2 separate regions of the Homo sapiens genome follow, and region 1 is linked to region 2. The links come from fine-mapping of genetic effects on plasma protein levels. A gene starts in region 2. The other region holds a variant in brackets. All regions are shown on one strand. Distances are between the middles of the regions.

Region 1 (8,000 bases), 53 kb after region 2:
CTGTCACTTACCCTTTATTGTAAGGATCATTGGCCAAGGGCATTTTTATGATTGGTTTTTGAGCTGAATCTACTTAATACAGGTGGTGGTCCATCTTGGACTCTTTTGTGTTGCCTCACACATGCTCTCTGTACAGAGGGAGAGCCAAACACACTTTAAAGTGACTGGTCGTTGAGAAGTGCCTTGTAGATCACAGTTCCTGGCCTTTGGACCACACTCAGCTCAGTCTCCTTTGGGTGCCATTCCCTCCTCCACTGTCTCTCAGTCAGTGCGGCCGTACCTGTGCCGAGACTCAGTGGAGCGAGAGGGACCTTGTCAGGGAAGGATGCAAGGGTGTCCCGAAATGAAAATGGTTGGGAACCCCCTCAAAGCATTCTTTAGTGGGTCTGTGCTCTGCGTTCCTGCTGTTGACATCTGCTCCTTTGCAGCTGCCGCAGAGGTGCTGTGCTCCTGAATTGTCAAGAATCCTGGCTGGACACCAGTTATCCTCTGCCTCCTTAAAATCATGGCAGGAGGACCAGGGAGTCAGCATTCGTGTTAGGAACCCTGAAAGGGGAGGGTCTTAAGAGGTTGCTGCCACTTAGGAAGGTTGCGTTGTGCTTTGCTTCCCTGAGTGCTAGAAAAGCTCGCCTTTCTGTCATGCTGAACTGTAACGCCAATGAAAACCTCAGAGTGCTCTGCCAATGTTTAAATGACCAAATTGAAGGCATCAGGGCCACTTTCAGGGGTTCCTATGTTTCCTCCTCCTGATTAGGATTTGCCAGGCTCCCCTCCTCCTTCATCCTATTACTTAATACATCTGCGCCCTGCTACTGTCTTGTTCTGTTCTAAAGGTAAACCCTCAGTAGGGCTTACTCAGGGGAGGCTGTAGTGAGAGGTGACAGCCCTCACAGCCCTCGCTTGCTGTCCACGCCTCCTCTGCCTGGGCTCCCACTTTGGCAGCACTTGAGGAGCCCTTCAGCCCGTCTCTGCACTCTGGGAGCCCCTTTCTGAGCTGGCCAAGGCCGGAGCCGGCTCCCTCAGCTTGAAGGGAGGTGTGGAGGGAGAGGCGCGAGTGGCAACCGAGGATGCGCGAGGCGCTTGCGGGCCAGCTGGAGTTCCGGGTGGGTGTGGGCTTGGCAGGCCCTGCACTCGGAGCGGCCGGCTGGCCCTGCCGGCCTCAGGCAATGAGAGGCTTAGCACCCGGGCCAGCAGCTGCGGAGGGTGTGCTGGGTCCTCCAGCAGTGCCAGCCCACTGGCGCTGCGCTGGATTTCTGGCTGGGCCTTAGCTGCCTCCCTGCGGGGCAGGGCTCGGGACCTGCCGCCCGCCATGGCTGAGCTTCCCCGCCCCCTCCACGGGCTCCTGTGCGGCGGGAGCCTCCCTAATGAGCGCCGCCCCCTGCTCCAAGGCCCCCAGTCCCGTCAACCATGCAAGGGCTGAGGAGTGCAGGCGCAGGGCGTGGGACTGGTGGGCAGCTCCATCTGCAGCCCCAGTGCGGATCCACTGGATGAAGCCAGCTGGGCTCCTCAGTCTGGTGGGGACGTGGAGAACCTTTATGTCTAACTCAGGGATTGTAAATACACCAATGGGCACTCTGTATCTAGCTCAAGGTTTGTAAACACACCAACCAGCATCCTGTGTCTAGCTCAGGTTTTGTGAATGCACCAATCCACACTCTGTATCTAGCTAATCTGGTGGGGACGTGGAGAACCTTTGTGTCTAGCTCAGGGATTGTAAACACACCAATCAGCGCCCTGACAAAACAGACCACTCACTCTACCAATCAGCAGGATATGGGTGGGGCCAGATAAGAGAATAAAAGCAGGCTGCCGGAGCCAGCAGTGGCAAACCCTTCTGGCTCCTTTTCTTTGGGAGGGTGATTTGTTGTTTCGCTCTTTGCAATAGATTCTGTTGCTGCTCGGTCTTTAGGCCCACACTGCTTTTATGAGCTGTGCTATTTGCCGGGAAGGTCTATAGCTTCATTTTTGAGCTAGCGCAGACCCCAACCCCACCAGAAGGAAAAAGCCTCAGCCGCGCCACCTTATAGAGCTGTTACACTCACAGTGAGAGTCTATGGCTTCATTCTTGAAGTCAGTGAGACCAAGAACCCACCAGTTCCGAACACAGTAGCAGTTCCTTAGTTAATAGGCAATGAAGAATCCCACTGCACAGTGATCCATGAACAAAATGGGGAATGATAACTTTTTTTCCCACGTTTTTACTTTTTTGACAGCTAATCATTCAGCGTCTATCATGTGCTGTGCACTTTGGATCAACATAGAACCAGCCCTGGGCCTGTTCCAGCATAGCCCACAAAGACAGGCAGCTTCAGTACCTCTGTCTCCTGTGCCTGTCCTGGAAATGTGCTGTCATTCGGTGATTAGTCTGGCAGAATATGTACTCTGGAAATCTAATGTGCAGCAGCATGGTGCGGGTGGAGTTTTAGACGACTTCCATAACACGGGGACTTCTTTCCTTGAAGCTGTCTAGTGTAGGAGCTTCAGTCTGTTCTGAGGCTTTTTCCTGATGTATAAGCACAGGGAGTGTCAGAGTGTGGAGAGCTTCAAGTACAGACCAGACACCTGAGGGGGTATCATAGAGGAGTCATAGCATTAAGTACAAGATTAGGTAACTTGCTTTCTAAGATACTGCCCAATTTTTTTTTTTTTTTTTTTTTTTTTTTTTTTTTTTTTGTGAGACGGAGTCTCCCTCTGTTGCCCAGGTTGGAGTGCAGTGGCATGATCTCGGCTCACTGCAACCTCCACCTCCGGGGTTCAAGCGATTTCCGGCTAATTTTTGTATTTTTAGTAGAAATGGGGTTTTATCATGTTGGCCAGGCTGGTCTTGAACTCCTGATCTCAAGTGATTCACCTGCCTCAGCCTCCCAAAGTGCTAGGATTACAGGGCTGAGCCACTGTGCCTGGCAGAATACTCCCCAATCTTAATGTTTCTGTGATTCTAAGAGAGTTAGATCTGAGGAAGGTGGTCGTAGTTAGCCATTAAAAGCCATTCAGCATGGTCCAGTATATGGGACACTAGCCTTCAGTAGGCTGCATTTGTTTCTCGCAGTGTCCCATGGCCCTTTCTCCCTGCATGGAAGCCTTCTCCCTTTTTCCAGGAGGAGACAGGCGAGAGAGGTCCAGCCTTTCTCTTGACTATAGCTGGGCGGGGAGGGAGGTGAACTGGGCAAGCACTGGGATTTTTTGAGAGCCTTTTCCCCTGAGCTGTTTTCTCTGCTACTCGCTTTCATCCCCACCGTTGGCATTTAGGAGCTGGAGCAGATTTTGTCATGCTGGGAGGAATGTTTTCGGGTCATACGGAGTGTGCTGGAGAAGTG[T/A]TTGAGAGGAACGGACGGAAGCTCAAGCTCTTCTACGGGATGAGCTCTGACACCGCCATGAACAAGCACGCAGGAGGAGTTGCTGAGTACAGGTGAGGAGGTGACCCCGGGGCGCACCCTCGAGGCCTGGCCTTGCTTTTCTTACGGAGATGGGATGGAAGCAGGTCTGAATAGCAGCTCTGTGTATATTAAAGTACCGTGGGAAGGGGTTCTTTTTAAAGACCCCTAATTTGTATCCAGTTAGCATTTGCAGTGTTTGGGGTTCCCAAAAGCAAGTACAGAGCAGCAGTGTTTGGTGATGGGTTGGAAGTGTGACCAGGGTTATATGTGAGTGGGTGCCAGTCCTGAAGGGAATACTTCAGACCTCTGGGGGTAGGTGGAATTATTGTCTTGTCCTTCCAGTAGAGCCTGTGCTGAGCTATCCCTGTAAGCTTAGATCTCTGGCTTGAGAAGAGTTCAGGCTGAAAGGATTGAGTTGAAGAATGGCTCTCCTCTTGCACAGAAAGCCATAGGTGTGGTCTAGACCACTGCACGGTGGCCAGGCCTTTCCTGAAGAATGCTGCATACAGCTCATACCGCTTCTCACCTTCCTCCAGGCTCCGAGAGCCGACACAGCAGCATTTTCAGCCATTCAGTTGTGTCATCCACTGTAGAAGTGGGGCTTACTTCTGCTGATGTGTGTTTATTTTTTATTTTTTATTTTTATTTTTTTGTGGTGGAGTCGTGCTCTGTCGCCCAGGCTGGAGTGCAGTGGTGTGATGTCAGCTCACTGTAACCTCTGCCTCCCGGGTTCAAGTGATTATCCTGCCTCAGCCTCCCGAATAACTGGGATTACAGGTACCCCCCATCATGTCCAGCTATTTTTTGTATTTTTAGTAAAGATGGGGTTTCGTCATGTTGGCCAGGCTGGTCTCGAACTCCTGACTTCCAGTGATCCACCCACCTCGACCTCCCAAAGTGCTGGGATTATAGGCATGAGCCACCGCACCTGGCTCCTGATGCATGTTTTTAATCCATGGTCTCCAAAGACACCTGGGTCTTTTCCTGATTCCCTTCCATTTTAACTGTCTGCATGTGTGTTTTAAGAACCTGATGATGGGGCCAGGCACAGTGGCTCATGCTTGTAATCCCAGTGCTTCCAGCAGCCAAGGTTGGAGGACTGCTTGAGACCGGGAGTTCCAGATGAGCCTAGGCAACATAGCAAGACCCTGTCTCTACAAAAAAATTAAAAATTAGCTGGGTGTGGTGTCACATGACTGTACTCCCAGCAGCTCAGGAGGCTGAGGCAGGAAGATGGCTTAAGCCCAGGAGTTGGAGGCTGCAGTGAGCTATGATCGTGCCACTGTGCTCCAGCCTGGGCAACAGAGTGATACCCTGCCAAAAAAAAAAAAAAAGAACCTGATGACAGTATACTCGCTGCCTCACCCTGCTCCATAGAGCCTACTGTTACTCTCATCAGGGTTAGCGCCGATGACAAGCTATACAAAATGGGTACAGGAGCAAAGGTTCTCCATCTGCAGAGGGAAGTTGCCTGTGAATCGGCTGGTTGCCTTTTTCCAGGAAAGTTCAGGCTTCTCCCTCCAATTTTCAGACTCTATCCGGTGCTGGAGTGGAAACCTAAGCCCTCCCTGACTGACACCCTTTATTTCCTACCACTCATTCCACACCCAGAGGGTCATTTTGAGGACCTGGGATTCAGATGTATTATATAAGGTTCATACCAAGCTAGCAGCAAAATCTCAGAACTCCACTGAGATTTGTAGGTGGGGGGATTGGGGGGAGTGGGGTGTATTCTACCAGAGTTCTATTCATCCGTGGGGTTCTAGCGGACTTACTTCAGTTCTCATTCTCCTCAAGTCTCTTTCTCTTGGTGGTGAACCCCAATAAAGATATTATAGTATGGGAAAAGCAGGATGGGAAAGATCGATGGGGACTGCACCAATCAGAAATGAGGGATTCACTCCTTCCAGGTAGCCCCCGAGGCCCTCTTTCCCCCAAGCGGTCCCTGATAGAGGAGGAGGTTGCATGGTTGGGTAAGGAGGAGGCACTAAGCTGGACCTATGTTCAAGAAGCTTCGTGCTTTACCAGCAACTGTTGTCATCATCCAAGGGCCTGCACATGTGTCCTCTGTGCCAGAATGTAAGTGGAGCTTTCATGGGTGAGCAGCAGCTAGGTGCTTTGCCTGGAGTACCTTTTTCACCCTCGTGGCTGCATCTGTTTTGGGTTCTTTAAAAAATTATAGAATCAAGAAGACCAGAGCAGGCTATGGCACAAACAGAAACCAAAGAGCTGAAAGAAAAAACGTCTTCTGTAATTTCAGCAGGGTTTAGGTATAATAGAAAAAAAAAGATTCAGCAGTAGCAAGACTCAGTTCTGAAAGTGGATTCAAATCTTTAACAGGGAAGGAAATTGCTGAGGAAATTAGAACCTTAATCCAAAGGCTTCAGCCTGAGCCTTGCGGCTGCACCTGTCTTACCTCTGTCTGAGTCTCTCTCTCTCTCTCTCTCTCTTAGTTTTCAGCCCGTGACCATGATCTTGTCATGAGAATGCTTCCCGACTTTGACAAATTACTTATGGCACAGTTATGTACACATTGCTGGTTCTTTCCCAATCATTATTTCATTCTCACGCTGTGCCCGGGAGGCAAAGTACCTTCATTTTACGGATGAGCAGACTTAAGCATCAGCAAAAAAGGAATTTGTAAAAGGCGACACCACCACTTAGCAGAGAAGCAACAGTGAGAATCTAGAAATTTCCAAGAAGCCCCAGGAAGGCCATGGAAATATCTTACGAAAATGAAATGTCAGTAATTGCAGGCACAAGTGTACAGACGCCTGTCTGGGGTCACGGAGTGCTGAGCCCTGAACCATCCTGGGTATGGCCAATGACTGGCTTCCTGAGCTTGGGGCTCTAAACCGGCTGATGGTTTAAGTAGCTGGATTTTACCCAAGGGTAGTCCTGCCTGTTCAGCAACCAAGAGTTAAGCCCCTTTTGAAATTCTAGATAATGAATGTCTGGTCAAGAGATGCTCTTCAAGGCAGGTGGATCACCTAAGGCCAGGAGTTCGAGACCAGCCTGGCCAACATGGTGAAACCCCATCTCTACTAAAAATACTAAAATTAGCTGGGAGTGGTGGCAGGCACCTGTAATCCCAGCTACTCAGGAGGCTGAGGCAGGAGAATTGCTTGAACCCAGGAGGCAGAGGTTGCAGTGAGCTGAGATTGCACCATTGCACTCCAGTCTGGGTGACAAAGGCAAAACTCCATCTCAAAAAAAGATGCTCTTTTTCCAGCTGAAAAGAACAGCTACAGAAAGTTCCAGAATTTGGGTACTTGTTAGAACTTGCATGGCCCTTAGATGAGAGCTAGAGTTTTGCCTAGATTTCAGATTTCCTTCTGGTAATACACACATCTGGTAATATACACATGTGTAATATACACATATTCTGGTAATATATACATGTGTCTGGACCACATCCCCATTTTGCAGTGAGGGGACATGACCTGTGTTACCCAAGTAACAATCAAGCAGTGTTACCTGGTGGCTTTGTGAAGAGAGGGACATGGGCTCAGTGGGGACAGTGAAATGTTGCTTAGTGTTCATGCCATAGGCCAGACTTGAGTTTCTAAATACTCCTCTGAAAATGTGAACGTTGCTATCCAAAGCCTGGAAGCCTCTGGTGCTAAGACAGGTCTTGGTTCTCCTCTGATTCCACCTTGCTTGGACCCACACATGTGCAGGGTGATAGGTGTAGTGACCTGTAAGAGAACAGGGAGTCGAACTGGGGGTGGCCAGTGTACCCAGCAAAGCAGAAAGACAGGCAGGCTATCAAAACAGAGCCACTTCAATGAAATCACCTTGCTGGTGATTTCCACGTAAGCTGGTAGGACCTGCGCTATCCATTTTATGTCCTCCTCGTCCTGGTCGTCCCCCTTGAAGACACTTGATTTCTGATCTTAGACCAGACAGGCGGGAGGTGAAGCTCTGGACTTTTCCTGTTGTTGACGTAGGAGGACAGGAGGCTGTTTCCAGGGGGGAATCGGCCAGGGCCATTCTGGGGGCATTTTGGGCTCCTGGTTGTTGGGAAGTTGGTGTGCATGTTGAGGTAGAATAGAAAGGTAAAGGTGGTTTCTGTTAGCAGCAGAGGGGAGCACGTTGCTGGAGAGAATGGCACCAAGCAGGGTGTTATGGGTCCCTGACTCCTTCAAGCGCTGCTCACCAGGACTTTCCTCTCCGCAACATGCAGGGCAGCCAGCAATGAGCCCGTGCCCTTTGGGCGGGAGGAATGTGTTCATCTGAGATGCTGGTGATCATCTTGGCACTTGGTAGAAATGTGGGGATGGGGTCAGAGGGTGGGGTCTGGTTTTCTGAGTGCCTTGGGGGCTACAGAAAGTGCTGGAGCTGGGAGTAATTCTAATTGGGCTCTTAAGGTGGGGCGGGAAACTAGATAAAAAGAAAACTTCTATCGTCTTCCAGAGCCTCTGAGGGTAAGACTGTGGAAGTTCCTTACAAAGGAGATGTGGAAAACACTATCCTGGATATTCTCGGGGGACTGAGGTCCACGTGCACCTACGTGGGGGCCGCCAAACTCAAGGAGCTCAGCAGGAGGGCAACATTCATCCGGGTGACCCAGCAGCACAACACCGTGTTCAGCTAACCCTGGGGACAAAGCAGCGTCTGGCT
Region 2 (9,901 bases):
AAGTAAGCTGGCTGGCCAGGTGCGGAGGCTCACACCTGTAATCCCAGCACTTTGGGAGGCCGAGGCAGGCGGATCACGAGGTCAAGAGATCAAGACCATCCTGGCCAACATGGTGAAACCCCGTCTCTACTAAAAATACAAAAATTAGCCGGGCATGGTGGAGCACACCTGTAGTTCCAGCTACTCCAGAGGCTGAGGCAGGAAAATCATTTGAGCCCGAGAGGTGGAGGTTGTAGTGTAGGTTGTCTATTCATGCCCTTAGCCCACTTTTTGCAATTGTGAATTGTGCTGCTATAAACGTGTGTGCAAATATCTTTTTCGAATAATTTATTTTCCTCTGGGTAGATATCTAGTAGTGGGATTGCTGGATCAAATAGTAGTTCTGCTTTTAATTATTTAAGGAATCTCCACACTGTTTTCCATAGTGGTTGTACTAGTTTATATTCCCACCAGCAGTGTAGAAGTGTTTCATGTTCACCGCATCCACACCAACATCTATTGTTTTTTTTTTTTTTTTCATTTTTCTTTTTAGGATGGAGTCTGACTCTGTCACCCAGGCTGAAGTGCAGTGACGTGATCTCTGCTCACTGTAACCTCTGCCTTCCGGGTTCAAGCAATTCTTCTGCCTCAGCCTCCCGAGTAGCTGAGACTACAGGCACGTGCCACCACGCCCGGCTAATTTTTGTATTTTTAGTAGAGATGGGGTTTCACTGTGTTAGCCAGGATGGTCTGGATCCACCTGCCTTGGCCTTCCAAAGTGCTGGGATTACAGGTGCAAGCCACCGTGCCCAGCCACCAACACCTAATGTTTTTTGATTTTTTGAGTATGGCCATTCTTGCAGGAATAAGGTGGTACCGCATTGTGGTTTTGATTTGCATTTCCCCCATCATTAGTGATGTTAAGCATTTTTTTGTGTGTTCGTTGTCCATTTGTATATCTTCTTTTGAGAATTGTCTATTCATGCCCTTAGCCCACTTTTTGATGGGATTGTCTTTTTCTTACTGATTTGTTTGAGTTTGTTGTAGATTCTGGATGTTAGTCCATTGTCAGATGTATAGATTGTGAATTTTCTCCCACTCTGTGGGTTGTCGGTTTACTCTGCTCACTGTTCCCTTTGCCATGCTCTTTAGTTTAATTAGGTCCCAGCTATTTATCTTTTTTTTTTATTGCATTTGCTTTGGGTTCTTGGTCACGAAATCCTTGCCAATGTCTAGAAGGGTTTTTCCAATGTTATCTTCTATAATTTTTATAGTTTCAGGTCTTAGGTTTAAGTTCTTAATCCACCTTCTTCTTCTTTTTTTGAGATGGAGTCTCACACTGTCGCCCAGGCTGGAGTGCAGTGGCCCAATCTCGGCTCACTGCAAACTCCATCTCCCGGGTTCAAGCAATTCTCCCACCTCAGCTTCCCGAGTACCTGGGACTACAGACCGGTGTCACCATGCCCAGCTAATTTTTGTATTTTTAGTGGGGACAGGGTTGCACCATGTTGGCCAGGCTAGTCTCAAACTCCTGACCTCAGATGATCTGCCTGCCTCAGCCTCCCTAAGTGTTGGGATTACAGGCATGAGCCACCTCACCCGGCCCCTTAATCCATGTTGAGTTGATTTTTGTATAAGGTGAGAGATGAGGATCCAGTTTCATTCTCCTACATGTGACTAGCCAATTATCCCAGCACCATTTGTTGAAAAGGGTGTCCTTTTTCCACTTCATGTTTTAGTTTGCTTTGTTGAAGATCAATTGGCTGTAGGTATGTAGGTTTATTTCTGGGTTCTTTATTGTTTTCCGCTGGTCTATGTGCCCATTTTTATACCAGTACCAGCACCATGCTGTTTTGGTGACTATGGCCTTATAGTATAGTTTGAAATCAGGTAGTGTGATGCCTCCAGATTTGCTCTTATCCCTTAATATTAAATACTATAATTCTGAATTATCAAAAAGCCTTTAATACTTAACTTTATTTCTGGGTTTTGAGAGATACTTATTTACTAAAAATAAACCATTTTATCACTTCACATAATTTTAGTTCACTGGTTAATTCTATTAAATATTTAAAGAACTAATCCCAAGCCTACACAAGCTCTTTCAGAAAACAGAGCGTGGAACATTTCCCAACTAATTCTATGAGGCCACTATTACCCTGATAAAGGCATCAAAAGAAAAGAAAACTACAGAGTAATGTCCCTTATAAGCTCAGATGCACAAATCCTTAACAAAATATTAGCAAATAGGATCCATCAATACAAAAAAGGATTATGCACTGTGACCAAGTGGAATTTATCCCACATAATTTTGGAGGTTATCTTCCCATGTAATTTTGGGGATAACCCTCCCCTCCCATAATAAAATGTTAATAAATTGAACTCTGGATATCACTTATGGCTTTGTCTAGACAGTGAAAACTTTAACATAAAGTCATTGTACTGATGGGAAACTATTATTGTTGTATTAGAGTAATGAGAAGCAGAGGATGTTGAAAGGAGTCTCAGTTGGTGTGGGAGTGGAACTGCCCTATGTGTTCTTCTTGCCTGCTGCATAGATAGAGCCAATTTACTGAGACAGCATTACTGCAATACAGAAAGAGTTTAATAAATGCAGAGCCAGCTAACAGGAGACTGGAGTTTTATTGCTCAAATCAGTCTCCCCAAAAATTCAGAGACCAGGCTTTTTTAAGGATAATTTGGTGGGCAGGAACTAGGGAGTGGGGAATGCTGATTGGTCAGGTAAGGGATGAAATAATAGGCTGTTGAAGTGGGTTTTCCTTGCTGTCTTCCGTTTCCGAGTGGGATCACAGAACTAGCTGAGCCAGTTTACTGGTCAGGGTGGTGCCAGCTGGTCCATCAGAATGGGGGGACTGACTGAAACATATCTCTAACACCAATCTTAGGTTTTCAATAGTGATGTTATTCATAGGAGCAACTGGGGAGGTTGGGAATCTTATGGCCTCTGGCTACATGATGCCTGAGCCATGATTTGTAATCTGTAGCTACTTTGTTAGTTTTACAAAGGTGCGCTGGTCCCCAAGCCAGGAGGGGGTTTGTTTTGGGAACGTGCTGTTCTCATCTTTGTTTCAAAGTTAAACTATAAACTCAATTCCTCCCATAGTTAGTTCAACCTACACCCAGGAATGAACAAGGACACCTTGGCGGTTAAAAGCAAGATGGAGTCAGTTAGGTCAGATTTCTTTCACTGTTGTCATTTTCCTATGTCAGATTTTTCTCACTGTCATAATTTTTGCAAAGCCGGTTTTAGAAGAATCAGGGACTCAGGCTGACTCTAACAGGAGTATGATTTTGTGTCAGAGAAGAGGGCAGTTATAGAGGAATGTTCCAGAGGGAGAGGGAATGGAATGTGTAAAATGAACTTCTCTGTCTATTCTAATAAAAGGAGGGCTAGCCAGAAAGAAAGAGAACCAGAGGGAAAGAGCAAGGACAACCTACAGAAGCTTCTCCTTTAAGACCATGTATGAAACAATGAATAAAGCCCTCATCCACGCTGGCAGATGCTTAACAAGGTCAGTTTCTCTTCCCTTTAAGGATAATAATTTAAAAATAATCATACCATCTAGTAATTATATTTTACCTCTATTTAATCTTTAAAAGATCAGAATTAGGTTTCCTTTCCGTACTTCACAAATAAGCAGCACATCTGGCCAGCTCCCAAGAATTCGTCAAGGGTTATAAACATTGCATGGGCTGGACTAATTGTGGCTACTTTCATTCTCTCTGATAAGTTTCATTTCCTTCCCTGAAACTTCATGAACTTCCTTTGGGGTATAGCTAATGAAACCATGTGGGATGGGCTGAGACCTTTATCATCTTCAGACATTTGTGTTAAATTGAATATTGTGATGTATCTTTTATGGTCAGCCTTATCACATGCTAGCTCAAGGAGAACAGTTGCTAGCTCAGTTCGAGGCTGCAGAAAAATGGAAGAGAATGAAAGATGATTCTTGCCTTTGTGCAGTTAGCATTCTAGTTTGAAAATACAAACACAATGCACATAATGTAACATGTGACTACAAATCTGTAACTACCATGCATTGAGCAACTACTATGGGACAGACATTGTGCTTACATAAACACACACACTTTAATTCTCACAAAAACCAGGGAGGAGATAGGGTTAACCCCCCCTCCTGCCCCCACCCCTTTTATGAGAAAACTGAGACTTAGAGAAATTGACTCCCCTAAGGTCACCTAGCTAGACAGTGGTGGAACCAGGTTTCAAACTCAGGCAGAGATGTTCCAGGACAAAAGCAGCTTCAGTGAATAGTTGTAGCAAGTTTTAAGGACTGAGAAATTTATATTGAATTTTTCTGCGGCCTTAGGCAAGTTATTTCATTTATAGAAGCCTCGTTTTTCCTTATCTGTGAAATGGCTCTTTCTTCATTGGGTTGTTCTGAGAGTGAATGAGATGATGCATGAAGCCCGGCAGCACATTTCAAATGTATAATAAAAGGTCGGTAAGGTCAATAAGTGAATCAATGAACTCACATCACTGGTAACCCCTCGAACTCACATCACTGGTAACCCTCAGAGGGGACTCAGGCTCCTCAAATCTCAGGATCTGCGTCGACTACAGACCTCACTGTTTTTCTTAAACAAAAATCCTGAAATCCAGGCTGGGCGCAGTGGCTCACGCCAGTAGTCCCAACACTGGGAAGCTGAGGCGGGAGGATTGCTTGAACCCAGTAGTTCAAGACCAGCCTGGGCAACACAGTGAGACCTTGTCTCTTAACAACAAGTCCAAAGGGAATCATGGCCTCCACAATCCCAGTACAGCTAAACAGTTAACTGCCCACGTTCTTTTCCTTAATTCTATACAACCTCCCTGGGGTTTCTGGTTCTTTGGCAAGTGAGAGACGTGCTCCTCAACACTGGGTGAGCACACCGGGCTTGAATTTTAAAAAAGGAGAATCCGCCGGGCACGGTGGCTCACGCCTGTAATCCCAGCACTTTGGGAGGCCGAGGCAGGCGGATCACTTGAGGTCAGGGGCTCGAGACCAGCTTGGGCAATATGGTGAAACCCCGCCTCTAGGAAATAATTTTTAAAATAAGCTGGGTGTGGCGGCGTGCGCCTGTACTCGAGGAGGCTGAGGCATGAGAATCGTTTGAGCCCAGGAAGTCGAGGCTGCGATGAGCGGCGATAGCGCCACTCACTCCAGCCTGAGCGACAGTGAGACTGTCTCAAAAAAAAAAAAAAAAAAGTAAAAGCTCTCAGGGAGCGACTTTTCCCTTGGATAAGGCAGCCACACGCTAAGTCCCCTCTCCATCGGGGACCCTGGGGACAAACAGAACGGTGCGCATTTCCCTCCCCCGTCCCCATTCGGTCACTGCCACGGGCTGTACACCTGAGGGGGAAGGACGGGGGCGGCGGCGCGAGGAGGAAGGGCTTCGCCGCCAATCTGTCCCTAACCAGTCTGCCTCTCAACCCCTGCCTGAGGCGGAGGCGGTGCCCGGGGCGGGCCAAGCGTGACCGCGGGTCGGCGGGGCGTGTTTAAGACCGCGGCGTGCGCACCCGGCCCACGCCAGCTCCCGGCCGCGGCACAGCAGCCCCGGCGCTCCCCGCGCCGCCCCGCGCAGGCGCCCCCGCCCCGCCGTCGCCGCCGCCGCAGCCAGGAGCCGCTGCACCATGCCCCGCATAGATGCGGACCTCAAGCTCGACTTCAAGGATGTCCTGCTCCGACCTAAGCGGAGCAGCCTCAAGAGCCGAGCCGAGGTGGGGGACGTTCGGAAGTCGCAGTGGGGTGGGATTTTTTTTTCCGGGTGGCGCGGGGCAAGTGGGTGGAAGGGGGTGGCACCGGGTTACCCTGCCTGCTTTGGTGTTTGAGACTGGGGCGCTGCGCCCCCGTTCCCGCGCCCCAGCACCTGCCAGGACGTGAGGTGTCTTTAAGGGCGGTGATACGGGGGCCCATGAAATTCTCTACACGTCGGTCCCGTTGGGTGGCCTAGGGGAAGTTCACAGTGAAACTCGACCACAGATGAGCGAGATCCAGTGGCCAGTTGGTTTAGAAGGAATAGGGGTACGAGGGCGCTTATAGCAAGAAAAGGAAACTGGAGCTAGGGGAGAGAGGACGAGAAAAACAACTGCAGATCCCGGTGATTTTTGGCTGCGTCTCCTAGTGCTGATAATTGCTGCTGCTTTCGCTTCGGGTCCAGCGGTGGAACTTCGTGAACGCGTCTGAAAAACCAGAACCCAGGGCACAAGTTCAGGGTTTCCTTTCTGAGTTTGGCGGCCTTGCTGGCAGTGGGGCTTGGGGACTCAGCGGTACTGGACAGCCCGCGGTCCCAGCCTAGCCCTGGAGAAGAGTTTCGAAAGCTTTGGGGTGAGAGAGGTGGGGGCGAATTGGAAGCCTCGGGCATTTCCCTGGTTCTGCCTGGATGTCCTCAAATCCTAAGGAACAGGTGGAGACCGGACTGGAAATAGCCTGAGGCTGGGGGAAGGGAGGCCAGTCCCTGAAGGATAAACTAGTTGCCTGAAAGGCAGAGTGCCCCGGGGTGGTGTGCGCTGGTGACTGGCTTTGCTGAGAGCTGGAGAGGAAGGTGAGGAAACCGGACACGGTTGAAGGCTGGGGCTGAAGGAGTAAACACGAGGAGGCTGGGCCAACCTGCACAGCTCCGTCCACTCAGCTCCACAAACAAGACCATAAATAAATCCCCTCAGCAAAGAAGTCCGCTGCCCACTCCGGTGCCAGGCCTAACTGCAGTGCCTGGGGCTGCCAGCCGAGGGCTTGCTTGGATTGGGGAAGCCTCCGCGTTAGCCAATGACTAAACCAAGTGGCCTTCTGTAAGCAGCAGCATTGGCTGGTTTGGAGCCCGGCAGGACTGGAGGACGTAGGGGAGGAATGATTAAAACTTATCGCCCCAGATTGGGTGACCCTGTGCCTGTCCCTCATGACCTTTCAGGTGCTAAAGAGGGGGCCTCTCTTGGAACAAAAACAGTTTGGAGGGCAGGCCTGGGCCTCTGGAAGCATGAGCTGTAGCCAATTCCTAAGGCAAGACCAAGATGAAATAGGGGGATTCTGGATGTGCTAATAATTTGGTGGCCTCAATATTCTTTAAATATTCAAAATGTATTTAGAAGAGAGAAACTCATTTTTCAGAAAATTGGATGTTCAAAACAAAGATATACCTATTTTCTGAACCAGAAAACATGTTGAGAAGGTAAAATATTGAACATTAATGTAATAGGGCCAGGCACAGTAGCTCACACCTGTAATCCCAGCACTTTAGGAACCTGAGGTGGAAGGATTGCTTGAGGCCAGGAGTTCGAGGCCAGCCTAGGCAACAAAGCAAGACCTCAGCTCTACAAAAATTTAAAAAATCAGCCAGGGCAGTTGTGCACACCTCTAGTCCCAGCTATTTGGAAGGCTGAGGCGGGAGGATGGCTTGAGCCCACGAGCTGGAGATTACAACAAAAATTTAAAAAATTAGGGCAGTGGTGCTCACCTGTAGTCCCAGCTACTTGGAAGGCTGAGGCGGGAGGATGGCTTGAGCCCAGGAGCTGGAGGTTACAGTGAGCTATGATGGTGCCACTGCACTTCAGCCTGGACAACCCTGTCTCTAAAGCTAAAATGAAATTTATGTAATAGAATGAATTACTCCTTCTCGGGGAATACTATCACATCATGCGACAATGTCATGCAACACTTGGCTTCATAATTTGGGCAGATTGTAACTAATGTTCCAGTTTGGGATAGCATCTTTGCAATCTTCATGTACACATTGCAGTGAGAACTCAGTGCCCTTGAGGAGTCTCTTTTGTATTTTTATGTTCGTGGGAGTTTGCCAGCCACGGGCCTGGAGACTCAGGTTAACCAGCATTGCCTTTCTAATCGGTTGCCGTGATGGTTTAGCTCCCTGATGCGTGAGGCTGCTGCCTGGCTGGCCACCCCCATGATCTGACTTTACTTGCCTCGGTGGCGTTGAGGGATCTAGTTAGGCCTCCCTAATCCCCTCTCAATGTTTTCTCAGTTTGCTTGTTGATGCCTGAAATTTTTCACAGGCAGATAAAAACTTTTCCTTGCACAATCAGAAGCTTAAAATATGTGCATCCTGGCAGAAGTAATATCTGGAGGCAAATTGGAAACTGAAGGGTAGATGACCGACATTGAGCCTAACAGCAGATTTGTACAGAGCCAGGAAAGAGAACGTACACCCTGGGAGTAGAGTCTGGCTGAGGGAGGAGGGTTTTGACAGCTGATGATGGGCTTATCCTCGTGACAGTTTTGCTAAGAGCCAGGCCCAGCAATGGATCATCAGGCTATAGCAGGAAACGGACAGTAAGAGTGATCTCCCCCTCAGAAGCTTCAGGACTCCTGCAAGGACATTTCCACCAGCCTTCCATAAATGAACATGAATGAGATGAATCTGAGGTCACCTCTGAGAGGCAAAGAATACAGGTAGCAGTGGCCCAGGTGGCCTTCGCCTGGATTCTCCAGGGAGGCATTCATCTCTCAAATGTCCAGCCCCTGGCATGGAAGAATAAAGCGCCACAGGGTCATGTGGGGACATTTGGATAATCTTTTTCTGAGAAGTGATGAGTTTGTGGATTGAGACAAGACCTTTGTTTTCATCTGTTACGCTGGGGAGCCTGCATTCTCCCTGAGTGTTTTCTTCCTTAGTACCCATTTCTGGCTCTAACATTCTACTCTAGTCCTTAAGCTAGTAAGAATGTACTTATTTATTTATTTATTTAGAGACGGAGTCTCACTCTGTCACCCAGGCTGGAGTGCAGTGGTGTGATCTTGGCTCGCTGCAACCTCCGCCTCCTGGGTTCAAGCGATTCTCCTTCCTCAGGCTCCCGAGAAGCTGGGATTACAGGCACCTACCACGCTCTGCTAATTTTTGTATTTTTAGTAGAGATGGGGTTTCACCGTGTTGGCCAGGCTGGTCTTGAACTCTTGACTTCAGGTGATCTGCCTGCCTCAGACTCCCAAAGTGCCGGGATTACAGGTGTGAGCCACTGCACCCAGCTGATAAGAATTAAAACAAAAACAAAAAATAAACCCCTAAAAAACTTATTAATAAATTATCAGGCATTGAAGAGAATCGCAGCAAATTACTCATTTTGTTTAAGGACAGAGAAGACACAACAGATGTTCAGTCTGCTTAAAACTTCATAGCAGTTTTTTCCCCAGCAGTCCCGTGAGAAGAGTTCTGGTCTAGCTTTCACCGTCTGCTACTGGTTGGCCTGAGGGGGATGAGAACATGGCAGAGTGGCTGGGAGGAAGGATACCTGTGTTTTAGTCCAAGCTCTGTCACTAATTACTTTTTTTTTTTTTTTTTAACCTTTGCCTGTATGCTGGTTTCCTGGGGCTGCTGTAACTGAGGACCACATACTTGGTGGCTTAAGTAACAAGAATTTATTATCTTACAGTTCTGGAAGGTAGCAGTCCCAGTCCAAGATGTTGGCAGGGTTGATTCCTTCTGAGGGCTGGGAGGGAGATTCTGTTTCTTGCCCTTCTCCCAGCTTCTGCTGGTTTGCTGACAGTTGTCCCCAATCTCTGCCTTCATCTCCACATGAGGTTCTCCCTATGTGTGCATCTGTGTCCAAATTTCTCCTTTTTATTTTATTTTTTATTTATTTTTTTTGAGAAGGAGTTTCGCTCTTGTTGCCCAGGCTGGAGTACAATGGCGTGATCTTGTCTCACCGCAACCTCCGCCTCCCAGGTTCAAGCAATTCTCCTGCCTCAGCCTCCCGAGTAACTGGGATTATAGGCATGCACCACCACGTCCAACTAATTTTGTATTTTTAGTAGAGACAGGGTTTCTCCATGTTGGTCAGGCTGGTCTTGAACTCTCGACCTCAGGTGATTCGCCTGCCTTGGCCTCTTAAAGTGCTGGGATTATGTGCCCTGAAATTTATCCTTTTTATAAGAACATCAGTCATATTGGACTA

Direction of the effects. Alleles are on the strand shown, and positions count from the first base shown. The strength of an association depends on the size of the effect and on how common the allele is.
As copies of A replace T in region 1, the plasma level of the protein whose gene starts at base 5,526 in region 2 goes up (strong association).

Evidence for each region. A credible set is the group of variants that fine-mapping cannot tell apart. PIP is the chance, under the fine-mapping model, that this variant and not a neighbour inherited with it causes the effect. Protein levels are from antibody-based Olink assays in UK Biobank. Linkage for the fine-mapping came from a reference panel and not from the study's own genotypes, which makes the PIPs less certain.
Region 1: its variant is the best candidate, but not a certain one, in a credible set for the plasma level of the GMPR protein (UK Biobank, PIP 0.85). The variant lies in the coding sequence of GMPR. If it changes the protein, the assay may bind it differently, which can mimic a change of level.

The regions. Positions count from the first base shown.
Region 1 is chr6:16,287,213-16,295,212 of GRCh38, forward strand. GMPR (guanosine monophosphate reductase) reads left to right here. Exons shown (of 9, transcript NM_006877.4): 8 at 3,250-3,409; 9 at 7,794-8,000. The coding sequence ends at 7,974. Among named protein-coding and RNA genes, the nearest start is that of GMPR, 53 kb to the left of the region's middle. The variant T/A (reference allele first, on the strand shown) is at 3,318.
Region 2 is chr6:16,233,062-16,242,962 of GRCh38, forward strand. It overlaps GMPR (guanosine monophosphate reductase), which reads left to right and starts at 5,526. Exons shown (of 9, transcript NM_006877.4): 1 at 5,526-5,719. The coding sequence starts at 5,633. RefSeq lists silencers at 5,309-5,408, 5,529-5,628.